Regions from separate parts of the Homo sapiens genome. Here region 1 is linked to region 2. The links come from fine-mapping of genetic effects on gene expression. A gene starts in region 2. The other region holds a variant in brackets. All regions are shown on one strand. Distances are between the middles of the regions.

Region 1 (8,326 bases), 470 kb after region 2:
CTGTTTTTAGACTCCCAGTGACACCCTTTCCTGCTTCAGTAATGCCCCTTCTGTACTCTGTGAGTAACACCAGCAGTACTGTTTCCAGACTCCCAGTAATGCCCTTTCCTACTTCAGTAATGCCCCTTCTGTACTCTCAGTGAGTAACATCCTAACAGCACTGTTTCCAGACTCCCAGTGAGAGGTGAAGCCAGCTGGACTTCCTGGGTTGAGTGGGGACTTGGAGAACTTTTCTGTCTTACAAGGAGATTTTAAAATGCACCAATCAGCACTTTGTAAAAACGCACCAATCAGTGCTCTGTAGCTAGCAAGAGGTTTGTAAAATGGACAAATCAGTGCTCGGTAAAATGGACCGATCAGCAGGATTCTAAAACTAACCAATCATGGGGAGGATTGAGAAAAGGGCATTCTGATAGGACAGAAACAGGACATGGGAGGGGACAAATAAAGGAATAAAAGCTGGCCACCCCAGCCAGCAGCAGCCACCCAGTCCGTCCCCTTCCACGCTGTGGAAGCTTTGTTCTGTCGCTCTTCACAATAAACCTTGCTATCGCTCACTCTCTGGGTCCATCCTGTCTTTAAGAGCTGTAAGTCACTGCGAAGGTCTGCGGCTCCATTCTTGAAGTCAGTGAGACCACGAACCCACCAGATGGAATAAACTCCGGACACACCAGTAATGCCCTTTCCTGCTGTAGTAATGCCCCTTCTGTACTCTGTTGCACCATTCCATATTCTCAGTCTATGAAGCAGATGAAGTTTCCTCCACACCCAGCTCAGAAGGAGGATGCCTGACTCAAGCTCTTACCCACTGGACCACGGTGTCCTCTTGGCCATGGGCTTAGCTGAGTTGGGCCACACGGGCCTCACTGGAGGTTCCAGTTGGAGCCATGGTTTAAGCCACTCTCTCCTGGGGCTTGCTGAGCTCTGGGGATGACATCGTGGAGCTGCTGCCATCTGTCCTGTGACGATATCTGAAAGTGAAGTCATGCTGAGGGAAACGAGGCTGAAAGATGAGGAAAGATGGATTCCGACTGGCATCGTTGGAACACCTGGATGCTGTCGATAGCATCAGCCAATACTTGATGTCTTTCCATAAGCCGGGGTAAGCTGTGTTTTCCGTCACTTGCAACACAAAGAGATCTAATTCAAAGGCGTTCTTATGTAGAATGTGGTCTGCAGTCTGCCCTACCTTCAAGCCAGGCTGAGGGCGGGTTCTTGCGTCATCTCCTTAAAGTGGCTTCTGTAATGTCCCTACTCGGTGAACCCCTTTAGGCTCCTCAGTGCCTCCAGTAGTGGATGAAATTACGCCCCAGGGGATCAGGCCTCCACAGCTGACCAGTGACAACTCCCTGACTTTATTTTCCATCACCCCTTACATCTGGACAGCACCCTAAATGTTCCAGCTACCTTCTGCCTTTCACCATGCTCCTTCCACCCAGCAAGCTCTTGCCACTGATATTCATGCTGCCCAGTTTTGAAGTTCAATTTGAACTTGAACTTCATGCCCTAAGTCACAAAAAGCTTTCCACCATAACTCCTGAGTTGGCCTCCAATGTGGCTCATTTCTTGAGCATCTACTATGTCCCACTGAACTTGGCTCATTTATTATCTGCTTTGTTCCACTGAATGGGAAAATTAAACCCTATGAAGACAGGGACTTCTGTGCTCCCAGTTCCTACTTCAGACCCTGGATCACAGCCAGCACTCAATAAACATTTGTACATCATCATATAGGTTTCCTATAACAACTCTGAGGGACAAAGTTCCTGCTGCATGAATGAAGGGAAACTGAGGCTCAGAATGAATCATGCCGCTCAAGTTCACAGCAACCTAGTCAGGTGTGGGCTGGTCCATTTCAAACTTATGCTCTTGCCATTGTGAAAAACTGTTTCCCGTATTCATTCCCTCATTTGTTCACTCACTAATAATTCACAGAGTTATCTACTATGGGTTTTGTATTGGAGTCATTTGCAATGCAGGTGTAATTCACTCCTTACCCCATACAGTGGGCATCAAAGGGCACCCACTGCACAGAACCAGTGAATGCTACTGCTGAGACACTCAGAAGATGCTCAGACAAGTCCCAGCAAGGGCAGGCCTTGGTCCGTTTTCCTCTGCCTCACTGCAGGTTCTCTGGGAGCCGAGATCATGTCCCATTTGCTTTGTTATTTATTCCAAATTAGCACACAGCGGGATTCCTTATTGATTTAAAAAACTTACTACTGTTACAGTGAATTGCCATTTCTACTCATCTCATCAAAAAACAAATACAGAAAAGAGATCAATTAGCAGAGCGTGGCCGAAGCTGGAACTGTGTGCAAGGCTGTGCTGTGAGAGAAGGCTGAGGAGGTCAGAAAGCTGACTGGAGAATTCAGGCTTCTTCCTGGGTAAAGCACCTCCCAGAGGGTAGGGTTTATACCTCCAGGAGTATATGGGCTTTTCCCTAAGGCATGCAGATGATATTCTGAAGATGAAGTGTTTGAACGTGAAAAACTGACAGCATTATGTTGGATCTGATGGTGTCTATCTTAAAACATTCAGGCTTGTTGTCACTAAAATAGCTCAGATTAATAAGGGGCTTCTTCTTTTCCCAGAGTGACTGGGGATCTCCAGGGCTTTGAAAAGACGAGGTGATGGGTAGACATATCGACATATCACAAAAAGTGGGTTTTTTTTAATGTGGAGGAAAGAAGAACCTGAAAATAAGGGAAAAATGGCAAATGAAGGAGAATCACTTAATTCTGATTCTGGCAACATGATAATTTGTGAACATTCAGACGTGGGTCAGGAGGGAGGTTCCTTTTTCCTTGTTAAAGATTGTTCAGCAGATGAATTGTGAATAAGGGGTGACTGTAGAAAATATATGTTGAGTTCTGTAGAAGAACAAATTGTTTTTAAGGTTACTGTGGTCATCAGATTGCAGAACAAAAAAGACTTCTATTTTTAGTTCTTTCCTTTAGTTGCTATACAAGCTTGACATATTTGCTCAAAAAAAAAAAAAAAAAGAACATACATCTAGAGGCATTTTATAATCTGGAATTTTTGCTAATTAACACTGACGGTCTCCTAATTTGGTGAAGTTTGATTGCGTGAATACTTTCTTTCAAAGAATTCTATAATTTTAGACTTGGAGAAAGCCTGAACAGTTGTCACAAGTATGACAGATGTGAAGATGAGCTATGATTTTTCCAAAAGTTTTAGGGAGGGAAAGGCGGAGAAGGGAGGAAGAAAAAATATGAAGGTCAGGGAGATGTGGGTGTGGATCTCGGGGCCATCACTCACTCGCTCTGTGAGCTTTGTCAAGTTTCCTAAACACTGTGACCAGCTGCATTCCGGAGGAGAGGATACAGAGAGGGGTTTGGCATGGAGCAGGATGACTAT[T/C]AGGGTTGAACTATTCAACCACAAAGATCCAACTGATTTCTTCTGACTTTTCACTAAGGTGCCTGCCACTGAAATAAGATTTATCAGTCTGTCAGTTTTGTTATTTCTGGAAGGCATTTCAAAACATCCTCCAAGGATCTGAATTAATTTTGTAATAATGACATAATATCAAAATATATATAACATATATATATAATATATATAGATCCCTTGGGATCTATACCTAAAGAGGGGGTGGAGGTAAGAAGAGGGAGGTGGGGGAGAAGAGGACAGAGGAGGAGGGAGAGGGGGATGAAGAGGAGGAGGGGGAAGAGGAAGGGGTAGAGGAGGAGGGAAGAGGGTGGTGGAAGGAAAGAAGAAAGGAGTAGGAAGGGGAGAAAGGAGGAGGAGGAGGGGGAAAGGAAGGGGAGGAGGAAGGGAGAGGAGGAAGGGAGAAAAGGAGGGGGAATGAGGAAGGGAGAAAAGAAGAAGGGGAGGAGGAAGGAGGAGGGAGGAGGAGGAGGTGGAAGAGGGAAGAGGAGGAGGAGGTTGAGGAGGGTCTTCGTCATCATACTGCGGTGGCCTGACCAGCAGTCCCAGCTGACCGCACGGGAGCTCTGGAGCTGAAGCAGCCTATTACAGGGCATGGGGCTGAGAAGGCAATGCCTTTATGCCTCTGCATCCATTCCTCTTTAGTTGGGCTGCCCCAGAAGGTGTGTGAGTGAGGAAGCTCTCTGCTTGTGAGGCAGCCCTGGAAGAGGGTGATGACTGAAGGTTGCCTGCTCACAGCACCCAGCAGCTGGTTGGGAAGGTGAGCTGGCAGATCATCCCTGCCCACCCAGCTGCCCTTAACTCCCCGTTTTTAAGTCTGTAGGACTGAAATCAGAGGCCTCTTAGGGCCCCAGGGGAATGAATGAGAGATTCCAGATAAAATGCTTAGCACAATGCCTGGCACGGGAAACGTCAATGAATGTGAATAAAAGCAATAACAATTATTTATTATTATTAATAGTTATAATAACTTGAATATGACTATTTGGGGATGCTTTACAAATATCTCAGTGTACCTAACCTCAGGCATCATTACAGGCCGGCGAATTGACTGCTGTGCCCACTTTATAGATGACAGCCACAGACTCATGGAGGATGAGCGCAGAGCCGTGACCAGGGCGGGGGTTTCAGCCAGGAGTTGGGATCACAAGTCGTTTTTGAAAATTTCACAGTGGTCCTGTCTTGCTGACATTGTTTGAGATGGTTTTTCATCCTTTTTTGAGTGGTCTCCTGACTTTTCCTGGTCTTGCTGGAAGGATGTTTGGTGGATAAGGAGGAGGATGTGACCTCCCCCAGCGTGGCTCTCCACAGAATGCAGCCAAAGTCCCGTCCTTCATCTTGAGGTCGCACTCAATGTTCCTGAGCTCCTCCCCGTGGTGGGGGAACAGCTCCAAGGGCTGAGCATGAGCACAGCTGCTTCTGCGTGTGAACTACACAACTGTTCTGTGATTGCCTAGAATTACGATGTTTCCAGTTCGGTGTAGTAAAAAAATGTGCTTCAGTGGATGCTTTTTATCCTTACAGCACCAGTGTCAGAAGCACATGCATAATTTAAAAACTGTATATTTTCAATTATTGTGAGTTTCCCAAACAAGGGACTTTTTTTTTGTGAATGTTAAATGCAACCAGGTGATCATTAAAATCTTTTTTTGTGTTGACAGTTTCTTCAGCTCTGAAACTGAGTTAAAATTTCTTAGTAGTAATTGAGATCTCTTGGGAAAAGTGTTTCAAAAAAGAAAAAAAAGATGTAAACAGATTTTCCAGCAAAGAAAAAAAATAAAGAACAGAGGGGAAAAGAGAAATAGGCTTCAATTTTACTTGTTTTGGAATCAAAGTCCTAGCCAATATCTCACTGAGATGAAAATTATTCCAAGTTAGAGGAGCAGGGCTAAGAATGTGTGTTTTTGTGAAATGTATTCACATTTTGGCCTTGCTAATACATGTTACTATCTAGCCAAAAATGACAACATAACCAAAAGCACTGGCCAGTGTTATCTAAAATATCAGATATATAGTCTGATATGATCTCATTATTGCAAAATTAATTCAGATCCTCGAAGGATGTTTTGCAATGCCTTTCAGAAATAACAAAACTGATAGCCTGATAAATCTTATTTCAGCGACACCTTAGTGAAAAGTCAGAAGAAATCAGTTTGATCTTTGTAGATGAATAGCTTGATGTTCAAACTCCTTCCAGCCTTTAGATTCCATGTCTGTAAAAATATCACATAACAATTGGCGATGCTGAGACATGTCAGGACTCAAAGTTTCTTGGTTAGAATAATTGATTTCTCGTTAAACTCCTATACATACACTTTTAATTTCTTTCAAACCAAATTTCAACCCCCACACATGATTTTTCCAAAACTCTTCTTGTAATAAAATGTCTAGAAAACTGAGAAAGTTTAATTCATTTTCAACTTAGAAAGCTAAGAGCCACCTTAAATGTTGTAAGTGACATCTCAGGGTAGCCCCACAGCTGCTCCTGACAGTGCTCATAGGGTGGCCAGCATTGGTGCACTCATCACACTGGGGCTGTTTTGTGGATCCAGATGAGGAGGTAGAGGCTCCCCTGTCTTTCTTTTTGAGAGCTGTGTCTCCACGACATCCATTAGCCAGACACATCTGCACAGAATATGGAGGTCATGATAAACATCAGTAGTGTGTCCAGATGGCAGTCCCCATGTCTCTTTTTTCCCCTTTTCATCCAGGTGTTTTGGCAATAAAAATAGCTGCCCAGCTTTTTATGCAACGATTGCTCTCTCCGAATATTCAGTGTACCTTCCTTTGTACCAGTCCAGAAGTCACTGAAGCATTTCACGGCATGACATCTGGAGAGGCTCTGGGGCTGGGCTGCTGGGTTGGATGTCAGGTGTACGTCTTCCTGACTGCGGCATCCGGGACATCGCTTAAAAGTTCAGCGCTTGGACTTCCTCATCTGTGGAGTGCAGTTATTCATGGACTTAGGAACGAGATTAAGTGAATTCATAACACAAATGGCTTTGCACCGTGCCTGTCCACAGTGAGTACTCAGTACACCGGGCTGTTTTATCATTGTTGTTACTGCTGTCGTTAGAGTGTGCAGAACCTGATTGCTGTTTTGATTTATTGCTTTCAAGATTCTACAATTCTCTACAGGCTTGTGGTCAAGCCGTTCAATAAGAAACTTTTCTCACCTCACCTGCTGTCAGGATTTGATACAAATTTCGTGTTGGTGTAGAAGGAGATTATACTAGCAACAAATGCTAATAACGCAGGGGCCTGAATGCTTTTCAATTAAGTAGATGAGTGTCAAGTAGAGTGTTCTGGTTGAAGAAAGAGGCACCAGCAAGAATGACAGGTTTAAAGTTAAGATTCGGACTTCAGTGCAGTTGGCCTTTTGCTTTTATAGCGGAATGGTTTTCTAACATCTTCTAAAGAATCCTCCAAATTGTTCGGTAGGTATTTTCCAGTACAATACTGAGCAGAATTGATACACTAAAAATTTTTCCCATTTTATTTATTCATCCATTCAACAAATACTTATGGACCACCTACTACATATATGGGTGTGAACAAGAACCTCAAGTCTGATGGGAAGGGCCTGTGTCCTGGGCTGCCAGGAAACAGCTGTGAAGGAAGGAGCAGCTGTGACGGCTACTGTTGTGTCCGAGAGGGGTGCAGTGGGTAAGAGACTGGAACAGAGACTGCGCTGGAGTATGGTGGGGGTGTTAGGGGGCCTGCAGTTAGGGAAACATTGGGTTTTGAGGGGAAGCATTGAAGCTGAAATCTAACTGATAAGAGGAGACCAGCATCCAAAGACCCGGGGAAGCGCGTTCCAGGCAGTGAGGCAGCAAGCACAGGGCACAGGTGTGTTTCTATGTTGTATCCGTGTGTGTGTGTGTTGCATCATCTGTGCACGCTATGTGTATTGTGTGTTGTGTTTCTGTGTATTGTTTCTGTGCATGCTCTGTGTGTTTGTATGTTGTGTGTGTATCTGTATGTTTGTATGCTGTGCCTATGTGTATTCTACGTGTTTGCATGTTGTTTCTGTGTGTTCTGTGTGTTTGTGTGTCTGTGTTTGTATTTGTATCTCTGTGTGTTGTTTCTGTGCATGTTCTGTGTGTATATTGTGTCTTTGCACCTTCTACATGTTTGTATGCTGTTTGTGTGTGTGTTCTGTGTGTTTGTGTGTCTGTGTTTGTATTTGGGTCTCTGTGTGTTGTTTCTGTGCATGCTCTGTGTGTTTCTATGTTGTGTCTGTGTATCTGTATGTTTGTATGCTGTGCCTATGTGTTCTACTTGTTTGTATGTTGTGTGTGTGTTCTGTGTGTTTGCGTGTCTGTGTTTGTATTTGGGTCTCTGTGTCTTGTTTCTGAGCATGCTCTGTAGGTTTGTATGTTGTGTCTGTGTATATGTATGTTTGTATGCTATGCCTATGTGTATTCTACATGTTTGTATGTTGTTTCCGTGTGTGTGTTCTGTGTGTTTGTGTGTCTGTGTGTGGGTAAAGAGCAGCTGCTGGGACTGAGCCTGTGTCCAGAGCTGTAGCTGTCTCACAAGGTGGCTGTTGGGCCCCTCCCATGGGTCCAGCTAGGAGCAGACCTGTCTTACTCCAGGGTAAGAGTCAGGTCATCAGAGCTTGCACAGTCCAGGCACACCCAGGATGGCCAGGCAGGAATGGAAAGCAGCTCCACACCTGTGCCACCCACTGGCGTTCCCAACTGTGGAACTGAAGCTAATTGCTCACAGGCACCTGCACACTTCCGCCACACACGTGTGCACGCTCTGACACCAAACTCAAGCTGCCATACCATCACTTCTCTAGAAGTTCAACAAGGGAAGTAAGTTCCAAGAAGAAGAAAGCATGAATACAAGAGCAAGAAGACGAGGCTTAGTTTGGGGTTTCAAAATTGGTTTCAGCTGCAAACTCTGG
Region 2 (8,326 bases):
ATGGCCTACCCGTTCTAACTCCAAAGTGACATACACAGTGCAATTAACAGAGTAGCTCTTGAAAGCTCTTTACTATGTATGCCCTGTTAGATTGCACATCTATTCTGCTCCTAGGCCGACTGCCTAGAGATTTTTTATTTTTTTGATGATTAATGAGTCAGTAGTATCACAGTTTAGATAAAAAAACTAAGTCAGAAAACTTGGATTCGGTGCAAAATAAAAATCCTATCCACATAACCAGGAATCAACAAGGCACGTCAACAAGTTCTGTCTTGAAGGGCGAGGATCTGAAAAATCACTTCACTATAAGCGTGAGCGAGTTCACGCACATGCATGCACACACACACATACACAGGAACCGCTGTCAGTTCTGGAGGGAAAAGTTTACATTCCCTGGGACACAAAACCGGTAGGGCAGTCAACAGTCCTGAATGTGGAAATTTAGCTTCGATACTTTATCAAAAGTCCTCTTCCTCTATCGCTTTGAAATCAATTCAAAGGCTGCCACTTCCAGGAAACTGATGCAGAGAGGAAAGGCTCACAGCCAAGGTGCTCATGGCACAGAACTGATTTATGTCCCCTCCTATGCAAATATAAAGTCTAATTAGTTTGTCTTGAAAGGGAAACAGACCAATAAGCAGGATGATCTACTGTCATCTGAGTTTTGAAGCTGTCTCTGACTTTCCCATCACAAGTGTGGATATAATCCTGCAATTACGATAAAGCTAATTGGTAGTTCCCTCCTGCATGTGTGTTTTCGTGTTGTCAGTGGGGCAGTAATGAAAATGAATGCCACATTTGTGAACAGACCGTCTGTGGGCTTATTTACCGCATTTCCAACAACATCGTCTGCTTTATCATACATTTCAAAGCAGGGATAATTTAAGTATCCAGAACTTCATGCATAAAAATACTTGGTAAGAAGGTCTCTCTCTGCACACTATTTGGGTGATGTTACATCCGAATTACAGTTTGCTGCCCAGGAAATGATTCACTTCACTCAAAAATGACCGGGGTTCTGAATCATTCACCTGTTATGCAAAACGCCTTTCAGGTCAACCAATTTGCACCTCGTGGACTTCACCACCATCATTTCACAGAGAGCACAAAGATGAGGCAAGCCTTGCCTCTCCCATCTACATGTTTCCCCAAGGAAAAGCATGGCAGCAATTCACTCCCACCCCTCCACACCCCGCCTTACCTTGAAGTAGCTTTTCCCCTTCTAGAATATTTTGGGAGATTAATGCCGTGTAATCATCTTCAGAGAACCCAGCCTTGCAGGTCTCTCTAGTTGTAAGATCCTCATTATGGGCCTGAGAACACAAAGGGGAGAGTGTAAAACAATAAGTTCACAGAAATTTAATCCAACCAACATTCATCCAGGGCCTGCTGTGTAAAAGGTCTCTGGCTAAGAGAGAAAGGCTGGCAGGCCACCGTCTCCACCCAGACGCGATACCCCGTCTGCTCCTCTGCTCTCTGGGGACTTTAGGGAGCACTCTCCAGGCTACAGACCAGGAGCATCCTTCCCCAGCCCCACACACAGCAGGCAGGGAGTGAAGGACGGACTGTTGGGGAAGCCAGGCCGGCCAGGGCCTTATTGGCAGAGGAGACGCCTGAGAAATGACCAAAAGGCAGAGACAGAAGACTTCAGCCGCTGCTCCCGAAGCCACTAAGGGCAGGGAGGCCAAAGTGTGGGCGGCTCTGCTCAGACCATTCGCGCTTTAGGCCCACCGCTCTGCGCTCTTGGTAAGGCGGAGGAGGCAGCTTCTTGTCTCCTCTCCAGGTCACCGGGAGGGAGGAGAAAGAGGAGAGAAAGGAAGAAGATTCTCTAGGACTAGGTCCGGAGCCGGTCGAAGAAGGCAGCTCTGCGGGAGGCTGCCGGTGGCTGGGGTGAGGAGGCAGTGGGGGCGCTTCCACCTTCTAGTCTTCAGCCCGCATTTTCACCCTCGGAGCCCCCATCTCCAGCCCAGGCAGGGAGACGGCTCCCCTAACTGACCGGAAAGGGGGTCTCCTCCTGTCCTCCGGAGCTCGCTCGCCTTTCCTGCTCAGTGGGGAAGTCTAGAGCCCATGGCACAGGGCCAGGGAAGGATGGGGTGGACGACAGGGCCCTCCGACCAAGCTTCTGGGAGGGGGCGTGACAGGCAGGAGGAGGTGGTGGAGGGAGAGGCAGTGTGTGCAAGCGGGAAGCCAGCCCCGCTGAAGGAGCAGGAGCACAGCGGTGCTTGGCTCCCCGGCGAGCGCAGGAAGCCTCGGGTGCAGCCCGCACCGGGCAGTGGCGCCTCCCGCCCGCCGCCTCCTCCAGCTCCGCGCGCTGCCGTCGCCCGCCCATGCTTCGACTCCGGAGGCCGCCCCCAGCCCGGAGCTCCAGGCTTCCCGACGCCGGCACCGCGGAGGGCGCCCCTCTACCCCCAGCACCGAGGGAGGAGAGCGGGACGCAGGGTCATTCCTTACGAAAAGCTCTAAACCGCGGCTTTCTTCATCGGCCACGAAGCTCCAAATCGCACCCGCAGCCCGGTGGGAGGCTCAACTCGCCCAGGAAAGTTTCCGCCCGCCCGAAGCGTGTGCCCAGCGCGTCCCCCAGCGCCCCGCGGCCTCGGAGCGGGCCTCCCGCCGCTGGCACTTGTTTATTTCCGAGGTTACAACAGCGCTGCCCGGGAGAAGGCAGCGAGGCCGATCGGCCACGAGAGGGGGTTCCTGCAACTCCCGCCGCCCCTCCGCCTCCGCCCAGGGGCGCCCCCGGAGCCGCCGCGCTCTCTGCCCCCGCGGGCCGCGCACCTCGCCAGGCGCAGAGCAAAGCTGGCAATCCGGCCCGCGGGGCTCTGCAGAGGCAGCGGGAGACCCGCTCGCCCTCCCGGGGCGCCCTCCCGCGCCGCGCCCGCCCGGCGTCCGGCTTCCCGGCCCAAGCCCGGCCCAGCTCCCAGCCCCCGGGGCCCCGCCGGACACGCAGGCTCCAGCCCCGCCGAGGGCTCGGGGGTGAGAGTGCCCCGCAGTCCTACCCCGCCGCCCACCCGCAGCGCGGGTCCTGCCGGCACCCACAGAACTGAGCGGCGCCGCTAGACGGACCCCCAGGCCTTGGGCAGGAGAGGTCGGGCAGGCGCCCCGCACTCGCGGATCCCTGGCCCGCAGCCGCCGGGCGCCCCACGCCTTCAGCCACGGCCGGGGCTGGGCTCGGCAACTCCCGCGGCGCGCGGCTCCCGGGCGATGGAGGGCGCGCCGGCTCCGCCAGTGGAAGCCTGCCCCATGCAGGCAAGCCGAGCTCCGGGTAGCGGCTACGGGCTTTGGGCGTTCGAGGGAGGCTCGGCGGGTCCGGTGCAGGCGGAGCTCCCCGGGTCCTCCACCGAGCCCCACTCCCACCCTGCTCCGCCGCTCCCCGCTGCCCAGGCGGCTTCCCGCTCCTGCCGACCGCAGGCAGCTTCGCCGAGCGCGGGCGCCGGGCTGGATGCAGCGGGGAGCGCGGCGGGGGAGCCCGGGAGAGCCCCGCCGGGTGTGTGAGCGCCCCGCGGGATCCGGGGACGACCTCCCGCTGCCCGGGGCTTCCGAACGGCGGGGGCGGGAGGCGGCAACTTACCCGGAGCGCGCCGGAGAGCGAGAGCAGCAGAAGGAGCACGCCGGCGCCCGCGGTCATCTTCCCCGCCGCCCGCCCGGTGCCCGGCACCGGGAGCCCGCTCCCTGCCGCCGCCGCCGCCGCCGCCGCCGAGACCACCGCCGCCGCTCCGATCGCCGCCGCCGCCGCCGCTCCCCCGCGCCTGCCCGGAGCCTCCAGCCCCGCTGCGCCCGCCGCGCTCGCCGCCCCGGCTCCGGGAGCCAGGCCAAGTCCGGCCGGCGGCGCGTTCCCTCGGGCCGGTGCGTCCGCCGGCCTCGCAGCCGCCCGCGCCTCTGTTCCGCGCGCTCGGAGCTGCAGGTGAAGCCGCGGCCGCCCCGCCGAGGCCCCGCCCCGCCGCCCGGCCCCTGCGCTCGCTCTGCCGACGCGGGCCTTAAAGGCGCAGAGCCCGCGCCCGCGCCCCCCGCGCCGCACCAGCCCAGCCTCTGCCCTCCTGGACGTCTGGAGCCGCCCGGTTGCGGCCGAAGAGGCCAAGGACGCTCGTTTTCCAGGGGAAAAAGGCGCGGGTGTGGAGACTGAAGACAGCGCTGGGGTTTCCGCCCCCACACCCGGGGCACCCTTTCTGGATGGGGCGGTCCCGCCGCGGTCTTAGTCCGACTTCCCGCCCGGGCCCGCGGTGGGAGTGTGCACTTCCATTCTGTCCTTTTATTTTTCAGGTGTCTCCTTGCTAACTCCCCTGACCCGGGCTTGAACCCAGGTCGGGCAGCTCAGGGGTGAGAGTTTCCACCTGGAGCAGATGAGCAGAGGGCCACGCTGAGATTTCAGCCTGTGGGGCTTTGCAGACCCTCCCGCTCCTAGGAAAACTCAAAGCCCTGGCCTGGGCTAGGGATGTACCCTAGGATTGGGGACGGTAGTAATTCCTGTGTGTGCATCAAAACACCCTGTTAGGCCTCAGAAGCCAAGAAAGAAATTAGAAGCTCCAAGAAAGAAAGAAGTGCCCAGACAGGAGCTGTCAGGAGTGTCTGCGCCGACAGGCTGGGCCAGCTCCAGCTCCCTTTGCCCTGCATGGGTGATGGCTGAACTGGGGGGCACTTCTTTAAGGGTTATCAGGTAAAATATATGTACAGGTCGGACAGTGAGTAAATGTTTCTGCACTTTTCCTTTTGGCTTGGAGATTTAAAGAAACGCGGTTTTGTTTGTTCAGATACATCGAATTTTCTTTGTCTGGGGTTTCAGGGACTCTGTGTCCAGAATACATTAGTTCTGGTTTAAGAAATAGGTTGCAAAGGAGAGGGTGGAAGATTGAGTGACACTGTTGAGCTCCAAGATCAGAGTCCACTTGGGCAAGCCAGTAGAGAAAGCTACAGAGCAGCCGCTTCCCTCTCTCCCTCCCAGAACCCCCACCCTTGGGGGCAGGGTGGTCTCCCGGTTAGAGCTCTGCCTTACGCTTAAGGAAACCAGATTTTAGATAACCCCAGAGGACCAGAGTAAGCACTACATCCGAGAGCACAAGGCGAGATTCGGTTTTGCAACTTAACTATGGAACTAGTCAGGAGACACAAAATCTGCCCCAGCCTGGACTCCTATCAGTTATGGCCTTGTCCCACTCCCCACCTAGCCGAAGAAGGAGAGGTTACCAGTTGACATGGCTGGAGGTTTAGACTCACTCGAAGGTCCTGCGTAGCCAGTGAGGTTTCATGAACAGATCCATCCAAAATCCTCATGGACAGAGAATTCCATTCCTCGGCCATGTGCCCGTCCTTTGGGAAGACGCCCCCTCTGCTTTCCTCCTTATTCAAGGTGCTTCACCACTGCTCGAGCGACATCAGAAGCTGTCCAAGACTGCTTTAGACACCAAGACAGCTCTCTTGTCTTGTGTCCCTGGTCTATTTTCTTAAAATATCTGTCGCTGGGGATACACCTTTGTCTGCAGGAGGCCTGAGCATTATGCGAGTTATTTCTTTGGAGAGGCATCACAGACCCCCGCATTTGCTCCAACGTGCTCTGCGAAACTGTTGAAGCGCTGAGGAGCGCGCCAATTTGAAAAAGAAAAGGTATGAGTGTGTGGCAGGGAGACTGGGGTCCAGGAGCAGGTGGGTCCTGAACTCCAAACACTGTGTTAAGCACATCTCCCTCTACTACTGAATGAATCTTGAGTCTACTGCAGCGTGATTTCCAGAAAGGGTAGAGTTTGACAATAGCCTGTCCTTACAAGGTGCTAGCTATGTGCCAGGGACATGTGTAGGAGCTTTATGTAAAGTTGCTCTTGGAGTCCTTCTAACTCCACTATACAGTCAGGCAGAGGAGGGTGCAGAGGGCAGGCACGGGGAAAGCTGCAGTGCCAGCATTCTCACCCAGAGCTGGGACCCTGGCACACGCAGCATGGCCCCAACTTTGTTCAAAGAAACCTTCTTACACAGCTGTAATGTCTTACGGGAACTCGCATTTTCCGAAATACATAGTTTCAGAAACACTGCAGTAACTGACAGGAGTCCAGTAGAGAGCATTGGTTTATCAGACTTACTCTGAATGCAGCAGCAAAGATTGCTGAGACAGAAAAGAAAAATATGACCTAAAATACAAAGCAGTGCCTCCAAAGAATGGTCTTCAGCCTGTCACTCTGAGTGTGGTCCCCAGACCAGCAGCATCAAGATCCCCCAGGAGCTTGTTAAAAATGCAGAAACTCAGGCCTTACCCCAGACCTGCTACATTGATTCTGAATGCTGATGGGATTCCCCGCCACGCCCACCTCTGGTCTGCAATCATCTGCAACAAAATCACAGAGAAACTCATGAAAAATGCCAGTTCCTAGGCTCCACCTGAAATCCATGGACTTGGAGCTTTTGCAAGTGGGGCCTGGAAGCTGACCTTGTAACAATCTCTCCAGTCCATGCTCATGCCACTAGCATTTGAGAATCACGGCCTGTCCCACAGACAGTATGTCCCACGTAACAGAGCAGCAGCTGGAAGCATCAGAAAAATGCTCTCTCCTATGCCCCACCCTGGATTTCCAGAACCTGGACCTCCAGGGGTGGAGCCTGGGCCTCTGCCTGGGGTAGCTGGAGAAACCCTGGCACAGTGTTTGGCACATTGGCCAGTGGGACTGTGGCCTGCCTTTGGTCCACCCAGTGCAGGGAAGACCACAGCTGGCCTGGAGGAGGAGCTAGTCTCTCTGCACTTTGGATAAAGAGCCCTAGAAAAATGTGTGCGTTTGTTTCTAAGAGAGATTAAGAGAATGCATTTGGGAGGTAGTGTATAAGTGACTGTTTGCTCTCAACACCTGTAAACTGTTGACAGTAATTGGACTACAGATGTTTGCTAAGCTTGATAGACTTCTCTGTCTCCCTCTCGATGAGGTGAGTCTGGGAAGGGGTTCCTCTTTAGAAGCAAAAACCAAGTGCTTGTATCAGGGCCACATTTCCCTATATTCGTTGGATGTTAATTTGTTTCCTTCCCTATTGATAGTTATTATTGTAGACACTTCAATGTTCGACAAAAAGGCTGTTTTGTACAGAAAGCAGTGAGATGTTGGCAAAAGGTGTGTTCGTAGAATAAAACATTGTCTTTGTGGGCGATTGAAGATATTCAAGGCACTGTAGAAATGAATGGAATCAGCCTGCTACCCAGCTCAAGAAAACTCCCTGCATGCAATAGAGAAGAGCGATCTTAAAGCAAAAAGCAAAGGAGAGATTGAGAGGGGCGAGCAGGCAGCAGAGAGACCAGTACAGATCGCTCCCTGCCTTCCATTCCAATAACGCTCACCCGCTGAGGTGAAGCTACACTGGGAATAAAGAAAGGAATAGAGTTATTGTTGTAGGTTTTTCAAAATCTATCTTTCTCCATGAACAGGGATCCCTATGTACTGTGTGGCAGGTACTGTGTCGAAGGTTTTCAGTCATGATCCCATGCGATCCTCACATAGGACGGAGGTGGTGATGCCCATGGTCCACAGACAGGACAGACTTGGGTATGTGAGCAGCCTGGCCTGGGTCACCCGCCGGCACGGGGTGGGCTGAGATTCTACTCCAGGCAGCGTGACTTAGGACCTGGGGGCATGGCTGTGAGGTGCATCCCTTGGAAGCAGAAATCCCAGGGGGAAAGATGCAAATGTCCCCTTCCAACCTAGGGCTGTCTTCTTTCCTTTTCCAGTCTCATGCTCAGCCTGGCCCACTCGCCACCAGCAGAATCCTGACCCTCTAGTCCATCCAGAAGCACACGCCCCCATCCAGGCTCTGTGCCTGTGCCTCTGCTGCTCCCTCCGGAGCTCCTTTCTCTCGGAGCACTGTGTTGGCTTTAGCTGCTGCAGGGCTTGGTGGACACCTCTCTCCTCACAGTGTGGTGGAGCTCCTTTCTGTGTGTCCGCCCTCTGGCCACTCCGAGAGCCTTGAGGGTGGGGGAACAGGGTGTTCCCCTCTCCACATGTGGCCCAGGCTCTAACCCTCTAGGAGCCCCCAGGGGGTGGACCCATAAAGCAATGATACCAACGATGACCCCCACTGGCTGCACTGTACCCTGGGGTACTTCCTGCACTCCCCCATTATACAGATGAAGACACTGAGGCATGAAAAGAGGGGAGGAGCTTGACCTGGAACCCAGGGCTGGCTGAGTTCAGACTTACAGCCTTAGTCATGACTGTGCTCCAAAGAAGCACACCATGCACTCTGGGTTCTGAGGAAGAACCAGGTGAGGCTGCTTCTCTCACTCCCCTGGGACTTGGGGGTCTTTGAATCTTTGGAAATTTCCATGGAGCAGGAGATGCAATTCACAAGGGGAAAAAAATTCAAA

What was found. PIP is the estimated chance that this variant, and not a neighbour inherited with it, causes the effect.
Region 1: its variant is fine-mapped to the expression of CDH4 in esophagus muscle (GTEx, PIP above 0.99).

The regions. Positions count from the first base shown.
Region 1 is chr20:60,782,473-60,790,798 of GRCh38, reverse strand. No RefSeq gene overlaps it. Among named protein-coding and RNA genes, the nearest start is that of MIR548AG2, 220 kb to the right of the region's middle. The variant T/C (reference allele first, on the strand shown) is at 3,382.
Region 2 is chr20:61,247,813-61,256,138 of GRCh38, reverse strand. It overlaps CDH4 (cadherin 4), which reads right to left and starts at 3,878. Exons shown (of 16, transcript NM_001794.5): 1 at 3,569-3,878; 2 at 1,202-1,313. The coding sequence starts at 3,625. RefSeq lists an enhancer at 1,082-1,774.